Linked DNA regions of Homo sapiens: region 1 is linked to region 2. Evidence: fine-mapped expression QTL. A gene starts in region 2. The other region holds a variant in brackets. All regions are shown on one strand. Distances are between the middles of the regions. Region 1 has its middle 20 kb from the start of TNFSF12. Region 2 holds the start of ZBTB4 (zinc finger and BTB domain containing 4).

Region 1 (8,326 bases), 50 kb before region 2:
TTTCACTCTGTCGCCCAGGCTGGAGTGCAGTGGCACGATCTTGGCTCACTGCAACCTCCACCTCCTGGGTTCAAGGAATTCTCCTGCCTCAGCCTCCCGAGCAGCTGGGACTACAGGCATGTGCCACCATGCCCAGCTAATTTGTTTTGTATTTTTAGTAGAGACGGGGTTTTGCCATGTTGGTCAGGCTGGTCTCGAACTCCTGACCTCAAATGATTCGCCCATCTCAGCCTCCCAAAGTGCTGGGATTACAGGCATGAGCCACTGTGCCGAGCTGGTTAACTTCTTTTAATCTATAACTAAGGTCTGAGTCCTGAAGACCTTCCTCTGGAGCCTCAGTAAATTTACTTAATCTAAATGGGTCCAGGTGCTGGGGTGATTACCCTTATCTTGTTTCCTGCTAAATCATGGAGGTTTGGGGAGTTCCTTCAGACCCCCAGTAAACTTGTTTGTGGAGGCCTGGAGAGTTTCTTCAGACCCACAGTAAAATTTATTGAATCCTAAATGGGTCTTGTTAAGAATTCCTTCGTTATTTTGTCATGCTTTAAGGCCCAGGAAAGGCCTAGGCAAAACTCTTGGTGGGCTTTTCTTACGTTCCAGCCTTTGTATAAAGGCACTGGCTTTTAATATTTAACTTAACTACTCAATCAGTACTGAAACAGTTGCTATGGAGGCCTGCATTAGTAAGACCTGGCCTGCCACAGTACCACCACGCCCAGCCCTTATGATTTTATCTGTCACACAGGCTGGAGCTTGGTGGCACCAACATATCCTACTGCAGCCTTGAACTCCTGGACTCAAGTGGTCCTCCTGCTTCAGCCTTCAGAGTAGCTGGGACTACAGGCGCATGACACCATGCCTGGCAAATTTTTAAATTATTTATAGAGATGGGGTCTTGCTATGTTGCCTAGGCTGGTCTCTAACTCCTGGGCTTGAGCGATCCTCCAACCTTGACCTCCCAAAGTGTTGGGATTACAGGCATGAACTACCATGCCTACCCCATGATTTTCTTAATAGCATTTTCTTTTCTCTAGCTTACTTAATTTTAACAATATAGTATATATATAAAACATAAAAAATACATGTTAGTCTTCTACTATGTAATTCGTAAGGCTTCCAGTCAATAGGAAGCTATTAGTAGTTAAGTTTTTGGGGAGTCAAAAATTTTTTTTCTTTTTCTTTGCTTTTTTAAAATTGAGATAGGGTCTCACCGGGCGCGGTGGCTCACACCTGTAATCCCAGCACTTTGGGAAGCTGAGGCGGGTAGATCACCTGAGGTCAGGAGTTTAAGACCAGCCTGACCAACACGGAGAAACCCTGCCTCTATTAAAAGTACAAAATTAGCCAGGCATTGTGACGCATGCCTCTAATTCCAGCTACTTGGGAGGCTGAGGCAGGAGAATCACTTGAACCCGGGAGGCCGAGGTTGTGGTGACCCAAGATCGTGCCATTGCACTCTAGCCTGGGCAATAAGAGTGAAACGCCATCTCAAAAAAAAAAAAAAAAAGAGAGACAGGGTCTCACTCTGTCACCCAGGCTGGAGTGCAGCAATGGAAACATGGCTCACTGCAGCCTTGACCTCCTTGGCTCAAGCAATCTTCCTGCCTCAGTCTCCTGAGTAGTTGGGACCACAGGTGCATGCCACCATGCTGAGCTAATTTTGTATTTTCATAGAGACGGAGTCGTGCCTTGTTGCCCAGGCTGGACTCAAACTCCTGAGATCAGGCAGTGCACCTGCCTCAGCCTCCCAAAGTGCTGGGATTATAGGCACGGGCCACCACGCACAGCCTTTTTCTTTGTTTGTTTGTGTTTTGTTTGCTTTTTTTTTTTTTGAAAAGGGGTCTCACTCTGTTGCCCAGGCTAGAGTGCAGTGGCGTGATCTCAGCTCACCACAACCTCTGCCTCCTGGGTTCAAGCAATTCTCGTGCTTCAGCCTCCCGAGTAAGTGGGACTACAGGCATGCGCCACCATGCCTGGCTAATTTTTGTATTTTTAGTAGAGACAGGGTTTCACTATGTTGGCCAGGCTGGTCTGGAACTCCTGACCTCGTGATCCACCCACCTTGCCCTCCCAAAGTGCTGGGATTACAAGCAGGAGCCACCGCACCCAGTTCTTTGTTTTTTTCATTCTGCTTTTTTTTTTTTTTTTTTTTTTTGCGGGGCGGGGGAGAGGGAATAAAAAAGTATACATGCGGTTTTGACTCTGCAGAGGGGTCAGTGTCTCTAATCCTTAGAGACACTGGTTCTTCAAGGGTCAACTCTAGTTTCTCTTAAGAGCAACAAGTTAAGCCATAAGCCAGCTAGATCACCAGAGGGAACTTAACTGATTGAGTGGTTAAGTTAAATATTAAAAGCCAGTGCCTTTTATATTTAAAGATATAAAATAGGGGAAAGATCCTAAGAAGAGCACTCTTGAGGTCAGAACAAAACTCAAAGACTTGCCTCAAAAACCATCCCTGCCAGAAATTAATTGAATCAGACTGTGGAGGAATTTATGCCTCAGGACATTGTCAAAAATAATAGAGCAATCAGCTTGCAGTTAGTGGAGCTTAACAGCTGGGTGTGGGGAAAGAGACAAAGAGAGCCCTGCTAAAACCACTATTATCTTACTGTGACTACAGGTACACTCAAGGCTACATCTTCTGAAGAATGACACCAAAGACTTCACAATATGGGGGAAATAGACTTCACTAAAATAATCTAGTCAAGTCACTAAGCAAACAAGCAAAAAACAACAGAAACAAGCCCTACAGAGAGGAAAGAGGAATTAGAGTTGCTAATATATTATTATCATTATTTTGAGATGAAGTCTCACTCTGTTGCCCAAGTTGGAGTGCAGTGATGCAATCTCAGCTCACTGCAACCTCAGCCTCCTGGATTTCAGTGATTCTCTTGCCTCAGCTTCCCGAGTAGCTGGGATTACAGGTGCGCCACCACGCCTGGATAATTTTTGTATTTTTAGTAGAGATGAGGTTTCCCCTTGTTGGCCAGGCTGGTTTTTAACTCCTGACCTCAGGTGATCTGTCCACCGTGGCCTCCCAAAGTGCTGGGATTACAGGTGTGAGCCACCATGCCCAGCCTAATATATTATTTTACATATCCAGTTTTAGGCCAAAAAAATTATTAAGATTTGCAAAGAAAAAAGAAAGCGTGACATATACACAGGAGCAAAAAAGTAGGCAACAAAAACTGCCCGTGAGAGAGCCCAGACATTTGATTTAATGGAAAAGATTTCAAAGCACTTATTATAAATATGTTCAAATAACTAAGGAAACCATGCTTCAAGAAGTAATGAAGACTAGGCACAGTGGCTCATGCCTACAATCCCAGCACTTTGGGAGGTTGAGGCAGGAGGATCACTTGAGCCCAGGAGTTTGAGAACAGCCTGGTCAACATAATGAGACTCTGTCTCAAAATAATAATAATAATAATAATTAATTAATAAAAATTAAAATTGGCTGGGTGCAGTGGCTCATGCCTGTAATCCCAGCAATTTGGGAGACTGAGGCAGGCAGATCACCTGAGGTCAGGAGTTCGAGACCAGTCTGGCCAACATGGCAAAACCCCATCTCTACTAAAATACAAAAATTATCCGGGTGTGGTGGTGCACGCCTGTAATCCCAGCTACTCGAGAGGCTGAGGTGGGAGGATTGCTTGAACCCAGAAGGTGGAGGTTGCAGTGAGCTGAGATCACACCACCGCACTCCAGCCTGGGCGACAGAGTGAGACTGTCTCCAAACAAAACAAAACAAAACAAAACGAAACAAAAAAACCCAGAAATTCTATGTGTGAAGTATGAACATATTGACTAAATTCAAAAGGGTGTTATATGGTTTTTCTGTAAGTTGAGCATTGAAATAAAAGCACAACAAGACACTCATAAGGCACTAATCTGCTCTTTAACAAAATTTGTAAAGGGTTATAAAAGGTTTTTGCTCTTTTAAATTTCTGAGTCATTTTAGCAAAATAAATAACTTGTGGTAATTTGGAATTCTATTTCATAACATCAAGTGTTTTAAACCTCTAACATATTTAACAGGCTTCCAGAAATTAAACTTCCATTACAAAATTGCCTTTCCTGATGGCTGGCTTTTGGATGCTACAGAGGGCCCCTGCAGTATCCAAAAGAGAGGTAAACAGAATTATTTGACAAGTTTAGTTACATGGGATTGCCAAAATGGTGTCCAATCTTCTTTAGGTTATATTCTGGTGAATAATACTAATGTATGTTCCAAAATTGTGTGGGATTTCTAAAATTCTAATGTCTAAAGTATATGCTATCAGTCATAATTAAGGTTGTTAAGTTATTGTAAACCACAGAGATAACCAAAGTTCTTTGTCAATTGTGTTTCTAACTGTAACTACCCTGGACATTTTGTTATTCACAGACAATTGTTGTCTTGTTTTGATCCTTTTCATAAGCTACAGGACTCTGCAGCCATAAAAAGAATGGGTTCATGTCCTCTCCAGGGACATGGATGAAGCTGGAAACCATCATTGTCAGCAAACTAACACAGGAACAGAAAACCAAACACCACATGTTCTTACTCATAAGTGAGAGTTGAACAATGAGAACACATGGACACAGGGAGGGGAACATCACACACTAAGGCCTGTCAGGGAGTGGGGGACAAGGGGAGGGAGAGCATTAGGACAAATACCTAATGCATGTGGGGCTTAAAACCTAGATGA[T/C]AGGCTGGGTACGGTGGCTCACGCCTGTAATCCCTGCACTTTGGGGGGCCGAGGCGAGCAGATCACCTGAGGTCAGGAGTTCATGACCAGGCTGACCAACATGGAGAAACCCCGTCTCTACTAAAAGTACAAAATTAGCCGGGTATGGTGGCACATGCCTGGAATCCCAGCTACTTGGGAGGCTGAGGCAGGAGAATCACTTGAACCCGGGAGGTGGAGCTTGTGGTGAGCCAAGATCACATGCCATTGCACTCCAGCATGGGCAACAAGAGCGAAATTCCGTCTCTCTCTCTCTCTCTCTCTCACACACACACACACACACACACACACACAACAAAAAACAAAAAACCTAGATGACAGGTTGATAGGTGTAGCAAACCACCATGGCACATGTATACCTATGTAACAAACCTGCATGTTCTGCACATGTATCCAAGAACTTAAAGCAAAATTAAAAAAAAAAATAAGCTATAGGACTCTGACAAGTATGCTCAAATATCAGTTTCTGATAACTTTGGAGATTGTGACATTGGCACACAGGAAAAATGTACAGGACTCATGAAGAGCTGAAATGTTCATGAATATCAAGCAAAACAAGAGTTAACTGAATGGACTGAACTAATAGAAAACTGAAGTAATCTTCTGGACTTTTGCTTGGAACATTGCTGATCCTTGTTTCATTTTTCAGAGTCGAGGAAAATTATTAGGAATTATTTACAGCCTTTAATAATTGAGTAGGGTGGCCAGGCGCGGTGGCTCACGCCTGTAGTCCCAGCACTTTGGGAGGCCAAGGCGGGTGGATCACGAGGTCAGGAGATCGAGACCATCCTGGCTAACACGGTGAAACCGTGTCTCTACTAAAAATACAAAAAATTATCAGGGTGTGGTGGCAGGCGCCTGTAGTCCCAGCTACTCGGGAGGCTGAGGCAGGAGAATGGCATGAACCCGGGAGGCGGAGCTTGCAGTGAGCTGAGATCACGCCACTGCACTCCCACCTGGGCCACAAAGCGAGACTCCGTCTCAAAAAAAAAAAAAATTGAGTAGGGTATACTCCTGTGAACAAAATTTGGAGCATGTTTGTTTCTCTCTGCCTGGTTCCTCTAGAATTTAGAAACTATCTATGAGTATTCATAACTTATGACAATATAGTTGTTTGTATCAGTGCAGTAAGAATCCATTTTCTTTTGCAACAGGATGCAATTGGAGAAACTGGTTGTTTTACCAAGGCTTTGACTGGAATGGTATGCTTCCCTTTAAGGAGTCAATCTCAACTTGCAGAGCCAATAAAAGTCCTTTGGTAAAACTGGCTTCATGCCCTTGTCTACACAGTCTCCATACAGGGTTCCTAACCTGCAATGAGTAAAGAATGTCACTTTCCAACAGGCCCAGAAAACACATGCTCTTGGGACCTCAAGAAGAGAGGAGTTTACCCAACTCACAGGTATTTGAGGATACAAACTCATGGCTGGCCTGAGCTTTAAAAGGTCTTATCTGAAATTCCTTGTGGAACAGAGTTCCATCAAAGTCAATCTAAAAGGCCTATGTAGAAATAATTATTTTTGCTGCACTTTATGCAAATAATCAGGCCAAGTATAAGATTAAAGTCGATTTTGCAAACAACTGAGTTCTAACTTGATTTGTTTTTAACAGAAATGAGGACTAGAAGGCTGGGCATGGTGGCTCATGCCTGTAAACCCACCACTTTGGGAGGCCAAAGTGGGTGGATCACCTGGTATCAGGAGTTCAAGACCAGCCTGGCCAACATGGTGAAACCCCGTCTCTACTGAAAATATTAAAAATTAGCCAGGTGTGGTGGTGTGCGCCTGTAGTCCCAGCTACTCGGGAGGCTGAGGAACGAGAATCTCTTGAACCGAGGAGGTGGAGGTTGTGGTGAGCCAAAATTGTGCCACTGCACTCCAGCCTGGGTAACAGAGCAATACTCTGTAAGGAAGAAGGAGAGGAGAGGAGAGGGGAGGGGAGGGAAGGGGAGGTGAGGGGAGAAAGAGGGGAGATGGAAAGAGGGGAGGGAGTGAAGCTGAGCGTGGGGGCTCACACCTGTAATCCCAGCACTTTGGGAGGCCGAGGTGGGTGGATTGCCTGAGGTCGGGAGTTCAAGACCAGCCTGACCAACATGGAAAAATGCTGCCTCTACTAAAAATACAAAATTAGCTGGGCATGGTAGCGCATGCCTGTAATCCCAGCTACATGGGAGGCTGAGACAGGAGAATCGCTTGAACCTGGTAGGCAAGATTGTGCCATTGCACTCCAACCTGGGTAACAAGAGTGAAACTCCATCTCAAAAAAAAAAAAAAAAAAAAAAGATTAAAAAAATATATAGAGAGAAATTATATTTCAAAACTTATATATTTGTCATTAAAGTTTAGACTCATTAGTTGTTTCTAAGTTTTGCCTACATTTTAAACTAACCCTGCTTATTCCTGTAAACCAACCAGGGATCTCTGGCTGCAGCTCAGAAACAACAAGAGGGATGGGTAATGTAAAAATCTGGATCAATATTCTAGTTCTGAGCAATTATCCTGCAAATCCTTCCAGGTGATGGGAATAAATACAGTGCCCATAACCCAGAGGTTTCCTCTGTGGGAAAGTAAGACCAAGGGAGCTAACAAAAGCCAAGCCTCATGCACCCAAATCCCAGGAAGCATAACTATAGCCACCAGTTATCTGGCCATGTCACAAGACATCTTTTTCTCTCCTTTGTTGGAGGAAGACTCAATCCCACATCTTCACCCTAGCATTCAGCTTATGATAAGGAGTCCACACAACCCCCCAAAAAACATTTTTGTCCCAAACTCAATTTCAAGCTTCAGGTCAAAGCCCTAGAAAGAAAACTGGATCTGAGGGATCCAGAGGCAGGTGATAATGGAAGTTAAAAGGCACAGTGCAGGTGAGCATAATTAATTCCTGCTGATTAAGCCAAGCTTCCCGTTCCATGGATAAAGATCATGCTAGTATCTGTGGCATAAATGAGGTCTAGGGAATTTAAAAGCTACTGACAGCAGGGGAGATAGGGCATATGTGGGTAAGAGTAAATACTCCCACCCCCTAGAACCCCCTGTTAATATGAGTGAAAACCACTTTGACACCCATGGGTGGGAACCTGTCATGGTTGCTGGGACTCCGGGATACAAGGACAGAAGAGAGAAGGAGTGACACCTCACTTTCTCTCCCTCACGTACTCTGGGTATTTGCTAGGAAGGGAAAGGAACCAGGGACAGACCTGTTCCCCTCTTTCTAGATGAGTAGCCATTCATCTTCAGTCTGTGCCCCTTTCTTTCTTTTTCTTTTTCTTTTTTTTTTTTTTTTTGAGACGGAGTTTCACTCTTGTCGCTGCACTCCAGGCTGGCAGGCTGGAGTGCAGTGGAGCAATCTCAGCTCACCGCAACCTCCACCTCCCAGGTTCAAGCGATTCTCCTGCCTTAGCCTCCTGAGTAGCTGGGATTACAGGCGTGAGCCACCGTGCCCAGCTAATTTTTTTGTATTTTTAGTAGAGACGGGGTTTCGCCATGTTGGCCAGGCTGGTCTCCAACTCCTGATCTCAGGTGATCCGGCCGCCTCAGCCTCCCAAAGTGCTGGGATTACAGGTGTGAGCCACTGGCCCCGCTGTCTGTGCTCCT
Region 2 (8,326 bases):
TTTTCCAGTCACTTCTCCTCCCATGTTTGTCTTCAGTCTTTGCCTCTATTTATCCCTGTCCCTCCCAACCCCCGGGCTCCCAAGTTCTATCTCACTCCTCCACCTTCCCTTCCCTCTCACAGCTGAGGTTCCAGGCTGTGATGATGGCAATGCTGCCCAGCACAACCCCTGCCCCCACGATGTCAGAAGGTGCCACAGTCTCATGGAGCATATAATACTGCAGTATAAGGGCCACCACCACCTCGGAATGCAGGACAGCGCACACCAGGGCAGGGTGGGCCTTGGTGACCGCATAGCTCACACATGTGAAGGAGACCAAGGCGAGGATCCCCACTGCCCCCACACAACTCCAACTCGGGAGATCACTGGGCAACACGGGGGGCTGCAGCACAAAGAGGCCTGGCACAGAGCCCAGCAGCCCCACCAAGCCAGATAGGAAGGCCACTGTTGGGAGGCAGGAGGGAAAGTGCAGAGAACGATAGACCAGAAGCCCCAGGGACAGCGCCAGTCCTCCCACGAAAGCCTGCCCATAGCCCAGGGCGGTGTAGACACCCGTGATCCCCTCCTGTAGTGTCCAGAGTCCAGGTCCCACAATGATGATTAGTCCTAGGATGCTGCCCAACAGTCCACACCAGTCGTAGCCACTGAGACCCTGGCTCTCAAGGCAGAGGGTGAGGACGGCGGAGCAGACGGTGGAAGAACCTTTGCGAACAGTGGCAGCGTTGCCAGCGGGCACCACCTGAACCGCACTGTAGGCACATCCAATGCTGAGGACGTTGAGCAGGGCATAGAAGTAGGCCCGGCCTCGGATGTCAGGAGGTCCCAGAAGGGGGTCGCCACGCAGTTTAAGTAGCAGGGCAATAGGGAGGTGGAAGAGGCATCGACAGATGAGCAGCTCCAGCGAGGGCAGGTTGGAAGCCTGGTAAGCCATATGAGAAAGGGGGCCCACGAAGCCAGCAGGCAGGCCCCCACCCAGCAGGGCCACCAGCAGGCCATTGGTGGCATCAGAGGGCTGGCAGCACTGGTGCCAGCGGAGGCTGGGTGGAGCGGAGGGCGGCGATGGGTGTGTGGAGTCAGGCGGGTTCAAGTAGGGGTGACTGCCAGCCTGTTAGGGAGAAAGGAGCTCAGGGTAGACAGCAGCCGCAGCCCAGGCGACCTGGGGCAGGGCAGATGCCAGGATGGGGTCTGGGACCCTGTGGGACTGTACAGTGTTGGGCTATCTTGCTGAGGAACTCTTCGGAGCTAGAAAGGGCCTAAAAGATGAGTGAGATGTTATAATGTGGGCCTGGAGCAGGAAGCAAGGAGTGAGCAGTCCTGGAGCATCGTTTCCCTGGGTAAGTTGTTCCTGGGAGGAGAAAAAGGACCCAGGATGCTCTCTCGGATTGAGGAAGGGGAGGAAGCCTCAGATGCTATGCATCTGTATGATGCCACAGGTTCCAGAGACATCTGGGTACACCATTATGAATTCTATTTGTGGGTATCTCTGAGACAGCTAAGTTTTAGGAAAGGAGGGGAAATGGAGCAACCAGGAGCTATAGGGAGGGAGTACTAGGCCCCTGGCCCCCACACTCACCATCTTTCCTTGGACTTTCTCCTCTCCTCCTGGCTCAGGGAGCCTGGGCCCCTCAGAGCTCCAGCCATTGTGACATGGTTGGAGTGGGGGTGGGGTTCTTCCCTGGAACTCTCCTGAGGTGGTAGCACGCCTATTTTCCCGCTGAGTCCAACTCTGCTTCTTTTCTTTCTTTCTTTCTTTTTTTGTTTGCGACGAAGTTTCCACTCTTGTTATCCAGGCTGGAGTGCAATGGTGTGATCTCATCTCACTGCAACCTCCACCTCCCAGATTCAAGCGATTCTCCTGCCTCAGCCTCCCAAGTAGCTGGGATTACAAGAATGTGCCACTACACCTGGCTAATTTTTTTTTTTTTTTTTGGGACGGAGTTTTGCTCTTCTTGCCCAGGCTGGAGTGCAGTGGTGCGTGCAATCTCGGCTCACCGCAACCTCCACCTCCTGGGTTCAAGCAATTCTCCTACCTCATCCTCCCAAGTACCTGGGATTACAGGCATGTGCCACCACACCCCGCTAATTTTTTATTTTTCGTAGAGATGGGGTTTCTCCATGTTGGCCATGCTGGTCTTGAACTCCTTACCTCAAGTGATCCACCCCACCACCCCCCGCCTCCCAAAGTGGTGGAATTACAGGCATGAGCCACCGTGCCCAGCCCAACTCTGCTTCTTTTCTATTTATGTCTCCATGACTCCAAAGTTTGTCTGATTCTTTTATTCTTTTTATGGCTAGCTCTGTGGCTTTACATTAATTTGTTTATTTATATCTTGCATGGTTTCAGAGAGGTTTTTTTGTTGTTGTTTTTTTTTTGAGACGGAGTCTGTCTCTGTCGCCCAGGCTGGAGTGCAGTGGCGAGATCTCGGCTCACTGCAAGCTCCGCCTCCCAGGTTCACGCCATTCTCCTGCCTCAGCCTCCCGAGTAGCTGGGACCACAGGCGCCCGCCACCACGCCCGGCTAATTTTTTTGTATTTTTAGTAGAGACAGGGTTTCACCGTGTTAGCCAGGATGGTCTCGATCTCCTGACCTCGTGATCCGCCCACCTCGGCCTCCCAAAGTGCTGGGATTACAGGCGTGAGCCACCGCGCCCAGCCTCAGAGAGGTTTTAAGGCAAGGAGCTGTGAACCCTGGCTCCTCCATCTCCTTAGTTTTTAATTTTCCAGCACCAGGGAGGAGTTCTTGGGATTGTCCCTGTGGAGTTTCAGGAATGTGTTTTTTCTGTGTGTGCTTCCACCTGGTGTTTTGTTGATGCTGTCCCCAGAGGCCGACACCAAGGCCTCTGCATTTATGTTCAAGTATACAGATGTGGATCTATCTGCTGGTGGGGACAAAGTACCCAGCCAGCTTCATGTGTTCATTTGCGCTGGTGGTCGTTCGTGTGTGCCCCGTATGCAGGGCCAGGGCCTTCTTTTTCCGCGGCCTGCTGAGCTTTCCTGCGCATTCCTGGAGAGGGTGTGTGTGTGTGTCCAGGGCTGGCCCTCTTTGAGTGTGCCGACCCTGGGTCTGTGAGTCCCACCGGGCCTGATTATGAGTCTGCCATGTCATGTCTGCACCCTGAGAGCCTGTGTGTTATGCTTTCAGGCAGTGTGCACCGCTGAGTGAAGGGCGTGCAGGAGGAAGGGCGGAGGGAGCCCTTTCCCTGGGGGTCGGTGGTCTTGCGCCCCTGCCGGGATGCTGCAGCCCGGCCCGCGCCCCGCTCGGTGTCCACCCGCCCGGTGGCCCAGCGCGGCGCAGTGTCATGCCGCGGGGGTCAGTCCTGGGGAAGGCCGTCGGGCGCTCGGAGCTTTGTGTCGGTGTCGGCTGCGCTGCGCCGGCCTCCTCTCGGCGGCGGCGGCGGCGGCGCTGGGGGGGGACTGTTTCCGGGGGTGGGGGTGGGGGTAGGACCGGGGCGGGGGGAGCCGATGATGTCAGCGGCGGCGGCGGCGGCGGCAGCGGGGCCGGGCCGGGGCCAGGCGCTGGGGGGGCCAGGGCCGGAGCTGGAGCCGGAGCCGGAGCTGGAGGCGGGCAAAACCGGAGCGGCCGGGGGCGGCCACGGTGATGAGCCGGGCCTGGCGGACGCGGCGCCATCGCAGTCAGGTGGGCCCTGGGGCGAACTGGGCAGGGCCAGGGCGGACCGGAGCCAACTGCCAGGCCCCCTCTCCGCTGCCCGGCGCTGCGGGAGCCCCGACCGCGCCCCGCGCCCAGACCGCTCTCCTTTGGGGTTGACCTGGGGGCGCAGGGGTCGGGGGCTGAGCCTGGCCCCGCCCCCGGGCGCGCACGACGCTGGGGGGCGACTAAGGGGGCCCTGGTATGGCGTCCGAGCGAGGGGCGGCCGTGGGACGCGATCGCCTGGGGCCGTGGAAGGGGAGGTGCTCACTCCCTCTTTGAAGGGTTAATTCTGCAGCCTAATGGCCCCCTCCCCCCGTGGGGCAGATTGGGGGTGGGGTGGGGCGGGTGTGAGCCCGGGCAAGCGCTGCAAGCTGCTGGGAGGGTGATGGCGTAGGAGCCAGGCAGAGAGGGGGAGGGGTGGGCCGCCGAGCGCCCCAGAGTTGGGGTGTGCGGGGTGCGCAGGGCGAGCTGGGGCCCCGGAACCGCCGCGCCGTCGGGGCAGGGTTGTGGCTGTGAGTCTTGGAGATCGTGTGTCTTGTGCTGTGTGGTGGGGCAAGGTAAACCTCTCCTGGGCACCACCGTTTGCTGGCAGCCAGGGGTCTGGGTAGGGCCCTCCCTGGGCCATGGAGATAGAAAGCCAGGAAGGGTGTCCAGTGTTGTGGGGCAGAGTTACAAGACGAGCCCTGTGGCTTTGGGTGACAGATGGGTATTCTGAGCAGGGCACAGCATGCTGGGTGCAGAGTTTGTTCGATGTGGGGCTGTATGTTTTCTACAGCATGTGTTTTCTCGCATGTGTGTCTTGTGCTGCACCTATGACCTGTTTATGAACTGTTTTCTGCAGAGCTGGCATGCTGTATGTGTTGCGGAGGGTGCCAGGATGCAGTGTATGTGCCCTTTTGGAGGGGGCGGTTGTGGGCCTTTGAGTCAGAAGGCGTCACGTCTGGGTCCCATTTCTGTGGCCCTGCTGAGGTGTGGTCCAGTGGTGAAGAGGGCGATGGATGGGTTTGCGTGTCTGTGATGAGCGCGTTGCATGGGGGCTGCGCGTCTAGAACTCAGATCCCAAAGATCATGAGAGGAGCGAGGAACCCCGGGGTATGTCTCAGGGGCCTGTGGGTCAGTTGGCACTGGTGTGAGGGGCTCGAGGTGGAATGCGCCAGTTGTGTTTATGGGATCATGGGCAGCCAAGCGAGGGGAAGGTTGTGTGTTTGCAACATTCTCCACAGGATTCTTTTGTGACGTTGTTTGTAGGAGCCTGTCTGGGCTGCTGAGCTGGGAGGCAAACTGGTCAGAAAACACATGTGGGGAGGGAGGTGGCGTGACAAGGGCAGTGTGGGCCTCAGACCCAAGAGGCCAGCCGCAAGCAGGCTGTGTGTGCGTGCCTGCCGTCTGTGTGCTTAAGTGGCGGTGGGGCTGCGGAGGGGATTTGGTATGAGGAAGGCGGGAGATAAATGCAGGGTAGCGCATGGAGGCCGGCGGGAGGCATGGGTGTTGTCAGATGGCCCAGCTAATCTTTGCAGGGTCTGTATGTTTGCCCCTCATGAGCCTGCCCAGCGTGTCAGGGTCACCCGGAGGAGAGGCTGGGCGGCCACAAGGGAAGTAAGCTTAGACAGAGAGGCTCCTTGGCCATGTTTATGTAAAGGCTGGGTGTGACTCTTGTCACTAAAATGGAAAAAAGAAACGTGAAGTTTTCAGCCTCCTCCTGCTTCACCCTCTCCCTCTCTCTGCCCCCCTTGTGGGTATCTCTGACGCACACTGGGCCCCACTCCTGCGACGGTGGAAGGGCCTCAGAACAGAATTCGCTCACTAGGCAGATTCCTCAGAACAGGTTTTCCTCACCTTTGGGGACTGGGCCCTTCTAGGGGTGTGTGTGCAAGTGCATTCCAAGCCTGCACACCACTGTCTACTGTGCCCGGCCCCACTGGAAGGATGTGTGTACGTGGGGGAAGGGAGGGTGCTGCGGACAGGCCCTCCGGCATGGGGGGCTGGGAAGGGGTGGCTGCCGTGGGAGCCTGCTCAACAGGTGCACAGTGACGGTCTGGTGAAGAGAAAGGAGCCATGGTCCAGGGCTGAGGAGCTCTGGCGTCTTTACCATTCCCTCACTGGCACTTGATCTGAAGGAAGCTCAGTTCCTCATCTGCAGAATGGGGCTGATTGTCTGCCCTGCGTATCTTCCAAAAGCACATGGGAAACGGACCCGGAAAGTGGCTATAGTCTGGGGGCTGTGCCTATGCCAGCCCCTGTCAGCCCTCCCCCAGGACTGGGAATTCCCTTCTTGGGGCTTCGCTGATAATAATGGCAGCACACACTTGCTTAGCACTGACCGTGCACCAGCCTGTCCTCAGGGCACTTATATGTGGCCACTCTGTCCTCAGAACAACACCCTGAAGTAGGCACTCTACCTCCCTTTTTCAAGTGAGGCAGCTGAGGTCCAGAGAAGTTAAGTAATCTGCCCCAAGTCACTTAGCTAGTAAGAGGTGAAGCTGTATTTGAACCCGGGCAATCAGGTTGAAGATCTTGTGCTCTTAACTACTGTACTCTGCTGCCTTCTGGAACATTCAGTGGATGGTCCTTTCTGTGCAACTCCCTCCAACACTCTTCTCCCCAGTTGCTGCAGAACTTAGCATTTGCAGCAGTCCATTTCAGAAGACCCGGATGCTCAGGGATCCCCAGCTGAGGGCATGAGAACCTGAGTCTCTGCTGCTGTGTAAGGTGGATGCTGGCCATAGGAGCACAAAAGGTTGATGAGTCAGAGGAAGGAATGATCGTTCTCATCCTGTGGATCAGGGAGGGCCAAGAAGGAGGTGGCCTTGGAGTCAGATCTTAACGTTTTGGAGGGATTTTGACAAGCTTGGGGAAAGAGCATTTCTGGCAGAACAAGCCAGCACAGGCAAAGGCATGAAGGTGTGGGTCATGTAGAAGCTGGAGAGCACACTGGGTGTCTGGGGTTTTGTTCATTTGTTTAGAAACTGGGTCTCAATATATTGCCCAGGCTGGACTCAAACTCCTGGGCTCAAGCAATCCTCTAGCTGCAGCCTCCTGAGTAGCTGGGACTATGGGTATCTGCCATCACGCCTGGCTCACGCTGAGTACTGTGTGTTTGAAGAGGATAACACAAGGCAAGATTAAAAAGGAAGATTGGAGCTAGACCAGAGCCCTTGACTGCCTGGTAGAAGAATTTGAACTTTCTTCTAGAGTCAGTGGGGACCAGTGGAGGTTTTGAGCCCAGGAGTGATAGTCCTGAACTGTGGTTAGGGACGTTGACCCTCAGGGGGAGGAGGGCTGGATGGAGGAAGGTAAGCCTGGAGGCCAGGGGATAGCTGGGAGGCCATAACCTTGGACCACGTGAGTGTTAACAAGGACCTGAGCTATCGAAGGGAAGATTTCCAGAGCCATTCCCAAGCTCGGCGGCGATTTCAGCCACACTTGATGACTGCTGGATGTGGAAGTGAGGGAAAGGGTGGAGTCAGACATGACACATTTAGCACTTAGCACGTGAGACCTTGTGCGGTGGTTTATGTAACCAGCTGGCGGGCCATAGGCCTCTTCAGGGCCAGGTCTAGCAGTATGGCAGAGGGAAAGATTGAGCATCTGGGGTCAGCTGGGCCTGGATTCGAATCTTGACTGCTGCTTACAAGCTGTGCGACCTCGAGTAAGGTATATCCCTCTCTGAGCCTCGGTTTCCTCTTCTGTAAAATTAGAATAATATGGCCGGGCGCAGTGGCCCATGCCTGTAATCCCAGAACTTTGGGAAGCCAAGGCAGGTGGATCACCTGAGGTCAGGAGTTCAAGACCAGCCTGGCCAACATGGAGAAACCCTGTCTCTACTAAAAATAAAAAAACTAGCTGGGCGTGGAATCCCAGCTACTCTGGAGGCTGAGGCAGGAGAATTGCTTGAACCCAGGAGACGGAGGTTGCAGTGAGCCGAGATCACGCCACTGCGCTCCAGCCTGGGCAACAGGATAATATAAAACCTATTGTGGGTGGCTGTACTGAGAATATCATTAAATGAGGTAATGTGTGTGAGGCCCCAAGAAGAGTATGAGGCAAATTGTGAGGACTCCAGAGTGGTCAACTTATTTATGGTTTCTTTTAATTTTTTTTTGAGACGGAATTTCTCTCTTGTTACCCAGGCTGGAATGCAATGGCATGATCTTGGCTCACTGCAACCTCCGCCTTCCGGGTTCAGGTGATTCTCCTGCCTCAGCCTCCCGGGTAGCTGGGGTTACAGGCGCCCGCCACTACGCCCAGCTAATTTTTTATTTTCAGTAGAGACCAAGTTTCACCATGTTGGCCAGGCTGGTCTCACCATGTTGGCTAGGCAGGTGGTCAATCCCTGACCTCAGGTGATCCACCTGCCTTGGCCTCCCAAAGTGCTGGGATTACAGGCGTGAGTTGGCCATACCTGGCCTTTTTTTTTTTTTTTTTTTTTTTTGAGGCAGAGTCTCACTCTGTCGCCCAGGCTGGAATGCAGTGGCGCAATCTCTGCTCGCTGCAACCGCCACCTCCCCGGTTCAAGCAATTCTCCTGCCTCAGCCACCTGAGTAGCTGGGGTTACAAGCGTGCACCACCACACCCAGCTAATTTTTGTATTTTTAGTACAGATGGGGTTTCATCATGTTGGCCAGGCTGGTCTGGAACTCCTGACCTCAAGTGATCTGCCCGCCTCAGCCTCCCAAA

The links.
Region 1: its variant is fine-mapped to the expression of ZBTB4 in whole blood (TOPMed, PIP 0.99).

Annotation. Positions count from the first base shown.
Region 1 is chr17:7,524,705-7,533,030 of GRCh38, reverse strand. No RefSeq gene overlaps it. Among named protein-coding and RNA genes, the nearest start is that of TNFSF12, 20 kb to the left of the region's middle. The variant T/C (reference allele first, on the strand shown) is at 4,692.
Region 2 is chr17:7,474,767-7,483,092 of GRCh38, reverse strand. It overlaps ZBTB4 (zinc finger and BTB domain containing 4), which reads left to right and starts at 3,462. Exons shown (of 4, transcript NM_001128833.2): 1 at 3,462-3,637. SLC35G6 (solute carrier family 35 member G6) reads right to left here and starts at 1,647. Exons shown (of 2, transcript NM_001102614.2): 1 at 1,574-1,647; 2 at 1-1,105. The coding sequence starts at 1,576. The coding sequence ends at 92. RefSeq lists silencers at 3,106-3,365, 3,386-3,845, 4,106-4,155.